Linked DNA regions of Homo sapiens: region 1 is linked to region 2. Evidence: fine-mapped expression QTL. A gene starts in region 2. The other region holds a variant in brackets. All regions are shown on one strand. Distances are from middle to middle. Region 1 overlaps CCNJL (cyclin J like). Region 2 holds the start of FABP6 (fatty acid binding protein 6).

Evidence for each region. PIP is the estimated chance that this variant, and not a neighbour inherited with it, causes the effect. A credible set is the group of variants that fine-mapping cannot tell apart.
Region 1: its variant is the best candidate, but not a certain one, in a credible set for the expression of FABP6 in cerebellum (GTEx, PIP 0.51).

The regions. Positions count from the first base shown.
Region 1 is chr5:160,249,950-160,254,337 of GRCh38, forward strand. It overlaps CCNJL (cyclin J like), which reads right to left. Exons shown (of 6, transcript NM_001308173.3): 6 at 1-3,849. The coding sequence ends at 3,429. Among named protein-coding and RNA genes, the nearest start is that of FABP6, 23 kb to the left of the region's middle. The variant C/T (reference allele first, on the strand shown) is at 2,680.
Region 2 is chr5:160,227,667-160,232,054 of GRCh38, forward strand. FABP6 (fatty acid binding protein 6) reads left to right here and starts at 1,840. Exons shown (of 4, transcript NM_001445.3): 1 at 1,840-1,958. The coding sequence starts at 1,892.

The sequences.
Region 1 (4,388 bases), 22 kb after region 2:
AGGCTCCAGGTCATTCTGCAGCTTGCTCAGGCTTGAAAACCTCTGAATTTAACCTGATGCCAGCCCTGGGAGGAACTTTAAGACTATCTTTGTGCTTTTTAAAGCTTTCATAGCTGTCCTCCAGCATGGGAATTAACACAATCTTACATGGGAGTGCCCAAGGGTGGAAGAAATACAAGTGGATCCCTCTGGCTGAAGGCCACAGAGGTCACAGCCTCTGTGGCACAGTCTCCCCCCGCCCCAAGAGCTTAGAACCATCCACCAACTTGACCATCTCCATAGTAACAGATGGAGAAATGGAAGCCCAAAGAGGGAGGGATTTGTCCAAAGTGAGGTGGGTGCTCTTGGTCAACCCAAGACTTGCCTTGTCTCTGAATCCCCAAAACTTAGAGCTTCCTGCCTCACCTAGCCTTGCACACAGCGGGTGGTGAGCACTGCCCTCAGCCCCGCCCTTGGCGGTGTCAAACACACTCCTGGGTCTGGGCTGCAGCCTCAGGCCCTGAGCTCATCTTCCCATTCCTCCCCTAATTGTCTAATCAAAGGCATCTGCACTTAGCAAATGTCTCAGCCCCACAGTGACACCGGCTCTCTGGGGTGGTTCTCCTGCTGGAAGCTGGGTAGGTAGAGGGCAAGACAGAAGTCTTGAGTGAGACTCCCTTCAAGGAGGAGTACGAATCTGACATTTTTCATAACAGCTGATGCTATATCTCATCAATTCTACATATACATATTTTGACATGTAACGCTTCTGAAATCAGAATGCAACATATAATCAATGGTATCTTGCAAACTGCCTCATGATTTAGTTTTCTAAAAAGTCTTATTAGTGCATAAAATAATAGTGCATCTTACAAAAAGCTGATCTTATGCTTGAAGAAATATAATAATTATCTCCTTTTTTGGAGGTACTGGCCTTGATGTACATTATGTTATTTAATCCTCTTAAGAACCCTATGAGGCAAGGTGTTATCACTCCCATTTTAACAGGTGACAAGATGGAGGCTCAGAGAGAGGTTGGGTCAACTGCCTTCCAACAGCTGGTAAGTGGTGTGATCATTAAGTTTATGTGGCAGCTTGGCTAGGCTACAGTGCCTGTTGTGTGGCTAGGTACTAGTCTAGATGTTGCTGTCAAGGTATTTTTAGATGTGATTAACATTTACAATCAGTTGACTTTAAGAAAAGCCTCCATAATGTGGGTGGGCCTCATCCAACTGGTAAAAGGTCGTAAGAGCAAAGATTGAGGTTTCCTGGAGAATAAATTTTGCCTCACGACTGCTAACACAGAAATCATGCCTGAGTTTCCAGCCTGTGGGCCTGCCCTACAGATTTTGAACTCTACTGCAACATCAGCTCTTACCTGAATTTCCAGCCTGCTGACATGCCCCACAAATTTTAGACCACAGCCTCTGCAATCACATGAGCCAATTCCTTAAAATAAATCTCTCTCCATATATATCCTACTGGTTTCTTTGGAAAAACCCTGAGACGGTGATGGAGCTGGGGTGTCAAGCCTTATACACCCCTCCGCTGGCCTCTGTGTGCCCAGGGAGGCCCAGCTCCTACTCAGAGGGCAGGACTCAGCTCCCGAGGTCTTGCTGCTGCCCCCAATATTCCACCCTCTACCATAGGGAGATGCTCACCAGGGCTGATTTGAGAGAGGGAAGGAGGGGCCGGCCCAAGAGGGGATGCCTAGGACAAGAGGTGAGAGATCAAGAGCAGGTGACGTGTTTATTGTGGGACGCCTCTTTCTGGGGGTCGTGCTGGCTGTGAGGGAACCCTCACAATCCCCAGGTCCCAGAACAGACAGATACAAGAACTTGAATCCAAACTGCTTGCACATAAATAGAACGGAGGTTGGCAAAGGAAAAAAAAACAACAACAAATGAACGTGCAGCCTCCTATGCTAGTGTGACACGGTGGCAGAGTCTTATCCACACCCCGTCTCTTTTCTTACTGTCTCCATGCTGAGATTTTCAGCTGCTCTGGAAAGATTCACCACCTTCCGATCTGACTCAGCAGCAGACAGCTGCCTTCCTGGCGGCCCCTGCCACAGTCTCCAGGACTGGCAAGGGGCTAAGGAATCCAAGACAGGTATTCCTCAAACAAAACAAAAATTGCTTCCACGGTCCTTTGCACCTCCCAGTTCTGCTGGGTGAACAATGTGTCCCCCAACCCCAAACTAAACCAAAGAACATGCTGAGCACAAGCTGCGAGTCAGAATAAAAACATATTGCACATGGTTACAAGAGTCTTCCTGAGGGCCCTCTCGCTGCAGATCCCTAAATACTGGCTTTTGATCCAACCAGTCGCTTGCCTATCAATGGTGGTATCAAACGCCCATGTACATCCCACTCCCCAAATACAGGTGGGACTAAGCAAATTTTCCACATTGCTATCCTTCGCTATCAGCCACACTCAAAGCCTAGACTGGGTTAAACTCATGCCCTGTAAGTATGTGGTGGAGAGAGGTGGGAACTGTTTAAATCTTTGTCTTCCTTTCAACGAGCTTCTCCCTCCCTGGGTAGTTATTAAAGTTCTAGTGGTGAACACAGCCTCCAAGACGTGGAATCTTCCGGAACCGAGAGCTGGGAAAATGGTTCTCTCCAACCATATGCCTTCAAAAAGGAAGCTCTGTGGTTACCTGCGGGTCCATCACAAGTTGGGTTCAAACTTGGGTTC[C/T]AAATTAACAGCCCTCATGTGGGACAGGCAGTGTGGCAATTAAATTTGTTTTTTTCTCCAAAGGAATTTTCAAGTATCACCAAATCCCTGATACAGTGTGTAAACAAGACATCTTACGAAACAGAAAGCAAGACCACTTCGGGAAGCAGCAGCACATGACATATCTAAAAGGCTGAAAATGGTTTTAGGTTCGAAAACAAAGGCAAGACAGCCACCCACTGTGCCTCGCAAGGCAAACACTCAGGCATACACACCAACTCAGGCCCCTCTGCATAGAGCCAGGGAAAGAAAAGCACCCAATATGGGATCCTCCGGGGGTCCTGAGAACACGCCAGGCTGCCCCTCCTTTTTCAGCGGTGTAGCTGCCATCAGCAAAGAATAGAAAAGTCTTTAATGCTAAAAACTGGACATGCTTGAGATCAGTGGTCTGTGTCCAGTTCCCACTCTCCTGGCCTCTTATCAAGTCTTTCTCGATTCACTGGGCCCCTGTGTGGGGGGACGGCCACCAAGCCATCCTTTTGTACCCTAGCCACACGTGGCAGACGTTTCTCAGAGGAATGCTCTCGGGTGAGGTATGTTATTGAATGTTTTGCTCTGGGTCAGTTTTATTTAAAAGGAGCACAGACCCTCCACGTTCCAAGGCTCTTCAGGGATGGCCTCCTGCTGCCTCACTTGGCTGAGCTCTCCTCTTCAGTGTCCTCTTCCTCTGCCCACATCTCCAAGGCTTCCTCGTGAGGTCTGGAGGTGGCCTATCTGTCAAAGCAGCCGGTGGGGAACATGTGGCTCCCACTGAAGTAGCTGCTTCCATAGGTGGTGGCGAGGCAGTGCCTGGGCTCAGCTGCAATGGCCATATGCATGCTAAGGGATGCAGGGACGGGCACGGGACACATATCCAAGGGCTGCAGCGGTTGGTACGGGGTGTGGAGGGATGAGCCTGTACTCCCCGAGAGCAGGCTCCCTGAACGGTGGGCCTGCAAGGAGTCCCGATAGGCCAAGCATAGGTCCTGCACGGGGGTCTGGAACTGTGCCAGGGTGGTCGCTGGCTGGCCGAGGGCCGGGTAGGCTGGTGGCTGGAACAGCACTTGAGTGGGGGTGGGGGGTGTGCCGGGCACCATTGCCAAGGCCTGGCTCTTGACGGCTACGGCATCCTTGAGGACGTTGTCATACACTCTGAAACGAGAAGACCTGGGTGAGAACTGGAGGCCAAAAGCCACCAGATGCCTGTGTGTGTCTCTACCTGTCTTGCTAAGTGGGACTGGAAGAGATGCGTGTGTCCTGTGTCCACCAGGCCTTACCTGGCTGTGCTCACTGTGTGTGGCACCGCTCCAGCTGTTCACAAACTAGATTCAGGCCTTGGCTCTCAGCTTGGATCTGCTTCCTACAGAAAATTTCTTCTGGCCCCTCCAGACTAGGCTGGCTGTCCCCACAGCCCCATGCTGCCCTATCTCCACAGTCAATACCCCAGAGAGTAACCTGCTCCAGAGGGTAACTTCTAGTTACCTGGCTTCCAGGAGGATGGCGCCTGCTTGTGCTCACCAATGCCTTCCCATCCCCTGGCACTGGAGTGTTCCTGGGGCCTGAATGAGCCCAATCTCTGCTTTCCAGGCAATTCTGGGCCAGCTCCATCCCCAGCGGGGTCACTCCTTAGCTAGCTGATATCAACCAAATTGACCGCTGGGGCCTAGGATTTTTCATCTGAAAAGGGGGCT
Region 2 (4,388 bases):
AAAGAGAGACCCTGTCTCAGGAAAAAAGAAAAGGAAAGAAAAAGCCTAGAAGGAGAGGTACCAAACTACTATCACAGGCCACCTCTGACAGGACTCTCACTTGCTCTGAATTATTTGAAATTTTTATATATATAACTTAAAAAAATCCATGACGTGTGTGTGTGTGTGTGTGTGTGTGTGTGTGTCTGTCTGTCTGTCTGTCTGCCTGTTAGACTAAAGTAAGAGTCCTGGCTGGAGTTAGAAATTCCAAGATTGGAGATTAAAGCCTGGTAAAATGTGGCAGAGTTGGTTTTTCATCAGTTCAGAGACCGCTTAGTCCCAGGTCTGGGAGTCAGCAACTGTATTGAATTCAGCTTTAGATGGAAATGAAGGAGATTCATGGAGAGCAAGCCTGGGAAAAGGAAATAGACGTGCAGAGGTTTCCTGAATTAATAATAATAATTGGCCGGGTGTGGTGGCTCACGTCTGTAATCCCAGCACTTTGGGAGGCTGAGGCAGGCGGATCACTTGAGGTTGGGAGTTTGAGACCAGCCTAAGCAACGTGGAGAAACCCCGTCTCTACTAAAAATACAAAATTAGCTGGGTGTGGTGGTGCATGCCTGTAATCCCAGCTACTCTGGAGGCTGAGGCAGGAGAATTGCTTGAACCCGGGAGGCGGAGGTTGCAGTGAGCCGAGATCACACCTTTGCACTCCAGCCTGGGAAACAAGAGTGAAACTCCATCTCAAAAATAAATAAATACATAATAATCACGAGAGCCTTTGCAGAGTGTTTTATACTTTGCACTGTCAATTTTGCCCAATGCAGAGGACATTCTCACAAGATGGGTAGGCCGGAGTGATCACGGAGGAGATAGAGTCCCTGCATGTGAAGTGGTACTGAGAGACACAGCAGGAAATGGAAGTCAAGATTCTGAACCCCTAACCCCTTCCAGCTCTGAAGCTTGAACAAAATAAAACTCATCCAGCATCCAGCCCAGTGCCTGGTGCACAGGCATCTTCAAGGCACCTGGCACCTTCTCCTCCAGGTGCGCTGCCTAGGCCCATGGGTGGCTGCTTTACTCTGGTTGCATTATCTGCACCCTTAGGAGCATCTGTTCTCCTTCAAGTTTGCTTTGCTCCAGCTAAACTCATTGTTTCCTTTCATCATGGCCCTTTCCATCTTCGTCACACTGTTCCCTCGTCCTAGAATATCGTCTCCCTTTGTTCTCAGCCTCCTCCAACCTTCCTGCTTCTCTACACATCCAAGTCCTATTGGTCCTCCAAGACGGGTGCCAAATGCCACCTCCTCCCCAAACATGCACTAGCCCTGCGCTGGACACCATTGCTCCTTCCCCATGCTCCAGGTCAGCCATCTGCTTTTCTCCTGGGGCACATCACATCCTGCTTACACAAGAACTCTCTGCAGGTGTGTGCTTGTCTCTGGACTAAACCAAAGGCTCTTTTGGGAAAGGTGTGTGTCTCGTTCATCTGTGTTTCTTCAGTGCTGGCCCTGCATGCAGCAAGTGCTCAAGTGCTTTGGCTGCAGAGTTAGAGGGTGCAAGAGTGATGAGAGATGGTGAGAGCATGGGTTGAGGGCAGGGCATGCGGGAACGGAGGGAGAGATGGGCAGAGAGGTGATGACTCCTCAAACCCGTTGCCATCCTGACCCTGCTGGCAATGGGGTGACAGCACTTCCCCAGGGTGAATAACCTCGGGGCTCTGTCCCTCCAGGTCCTGCCCACATCATAAAACAGCAAGTGCTTCCTCTTCAGGACAGGAGGGAGAAGAAGTGGGGTGACTTAGGGGCTGAGCCTCAGCAACTGGGAGAGTTTATAAGCTGGGATAGCAGACCCCTCAGCACCACCCATTCTCCTCATCCCTCTGCTCTCTGGCCTCCAGCCTCCCAGCAGCATGGCTTTCACCGGCAAGTTCGAGATGGAGAGTGAGAAGAATTATGATGAGTTCATGAAGCTCCTTGGTGAGTGAGCTCCTGGGTATCCCTTCCTCGGGGTTGGTTTGTCACAGCCAGCTCTGGGCCAGGAACCCTAAAGTAGAATGGGACAGGATTTCATCCATTCATTCACTCACTCACTCATTCATTCATTCACACATTTGTTGAGCAACTGCTTTCTCCCAGGCTCTGAGGATAATAAGAACTAAGACACTCTTTAACTTTTTTATTTTATTTTATTTTATTTTATTTTATTTTATTTTATTTTATTTTATTTTATTTTATTTTATTTTTGAGACAGAGTCTCACTCTGTCTCCCAGGCTGGAGTGCAGTGGCACCATCTCGGCTCACTGCAACCTTCGGCTCCCACGTTCAAGTAATTCTCCTGCCTCAGCCTCCCGAGTAGCTGGGATTACAGGTGTGCACCACCACGCCCGGCTAATTTTTTTTTTTTGTATTTTTTTAGTAAAGATGGGGTTTTACCATGTTGGCCAGGCTGGTCTTGAACTCCTGACCTCAGGTGATCCACCCAGCTCGACCTCCCAAAGTGCTGGAATTACAGGCGTGAGCTGCCGCACCCAGCATAGACACTCTTTGACTTTAAAACACACATAGAATATATTAGTATTTCCACTTTACTGATGGAAAACTTGAGGCCCAGGGAATTAACTAGTCCAAAGTCACACAGCTAGTAATTGGTAAAGTGGAGACTTGGTTGGTGAAGTAGAGATTTGATGTTTATTTAGTCAAACATGTATTTATTTTTATTCATTTATTTTTGAGACGGAGTCTTGCTCTGTCTCCCAGGCTGAAGTGTAGTGGCATGATCTCAGCTCACTGCAACCTCCGTCTCCTGGGTTCCAGCAATTCTCCTACCTCAGCCTCTCAAGTAGCTGGAACTACAGGCATGTGCCACCACATCTGGCTAATTTTTTGTATTTTCAGTAGAGACGGGGTATCACCCTGTTGCTCAGGCTGGTCTTGAACTCCTAACCTCAGGTGATCCACCCACCTCGGCCTCCCAAAATGCTGGGATTACAGACGTGAGCCACCGAGCCCAGCCCATCAAACATTTATTGAACACCAGCTATATGCAAGGCTATCTCAGTGTTACCAATGGGGACTCAGCGTGACTTGCCCAAGTCAGTGGCAGAGGCCATTGGCACCCAGGACCCTGTGATGAGTGGTGTCACCACATCCTGCCTGGGAGAGGAAACCAAAGGGTTAGCATGGAGACCAGGTTTGACAAGTCACTTCTTCACACAGTCATTCAGCAAACACAGGCCTCTTACTGTGCCAAACACTGTGGGCAGAGAGACCAGTGATTTCATTCCTTCTCTCACTGCTTGACTTGTAACACCAGTCTGTTGTGAGGAACCAATGAGACAGTGGATCTGACAATCTTGTGGAAATCTCAGTATCTCACTATCTAAAAAGTCTCAGGCAGTGTAACTCTCAAGGTTCAGAGGACAGCTCAAGGGGACCCGTGCCCTCCCTCTTGGTGGCCACTTCTTGCCTGCCAGCTGGCTCAGAGCAACCCTGAGACCAGGGCCCTTGTGCCTTGGGGCCTTGAGGAGTCGAGAGTCCCTCTGAGTCATGTATTGGCAGTGGCCCTGAAGGAGCAATGACTTGGCTTCACCTATAACAGCCTCGTGTTGTGGGATGGGAAGTGAGCCCACTTTGGTTCTAGACCTGATTCGGTCATTAAATTTCAGTGAAATACTGGGAAGTCCCTTTCCCATTCTGGGTGCTCACTTCCTTATCTGTAAAATAAAAGTATTAGAAGACACAGTCTTTCTCTGGCAGGGAGGAGGGGACGGAGTCCTGCTCTGTAGCCCAGGCGGAACTGCAGTGGCGCGATCCCAGCTCACTGCAACCTCTGCCTCCAGGGTTTAAGTGATTCTTTTGCCTCAGCCTCTCAAGTAGCCAGTATTACAGGCACCTGCCACCATGCCCAGATAATTTTTTTGTATTTTTAGTAGAGACAGGGTTTTACCATGTTAGCCAGGCTGGTCTCGAACTTCTGACCTTAAACGATCTGCCTGCCTCGGGCCCTCAAGGAGCTGGGATTACAGGCATGAACCACCATACCTGGTCTTGAAAGTCTCATTCATTCCAGAACTTCGCGAGCTTGGCAAGATTCAGTTATATTTATATTACTATCAGAAGCTTGGTTATTATTGATGAGCACCCACCATGTGCCAGGAGCTTCACAAACACACTCACATTGAATATAATTCTTGTAACAGCCTTTTGGGATGGGCCTTATTATCTCCATATTGTGGATGAATAGACTGAAGCTCAGAGAGATAGGGACTTTCCCCAGCCACATGGCTCACAGCACGTATTAGCTGTCTCAGGCACTGTGCTCTTAACCTGCAGGCTAGCCTATCATGCACAAGGGGGTAGGGCGGTGGGGGTGGGCAGGAAAGCTCTTTTCCCAAACCACAGGGTTA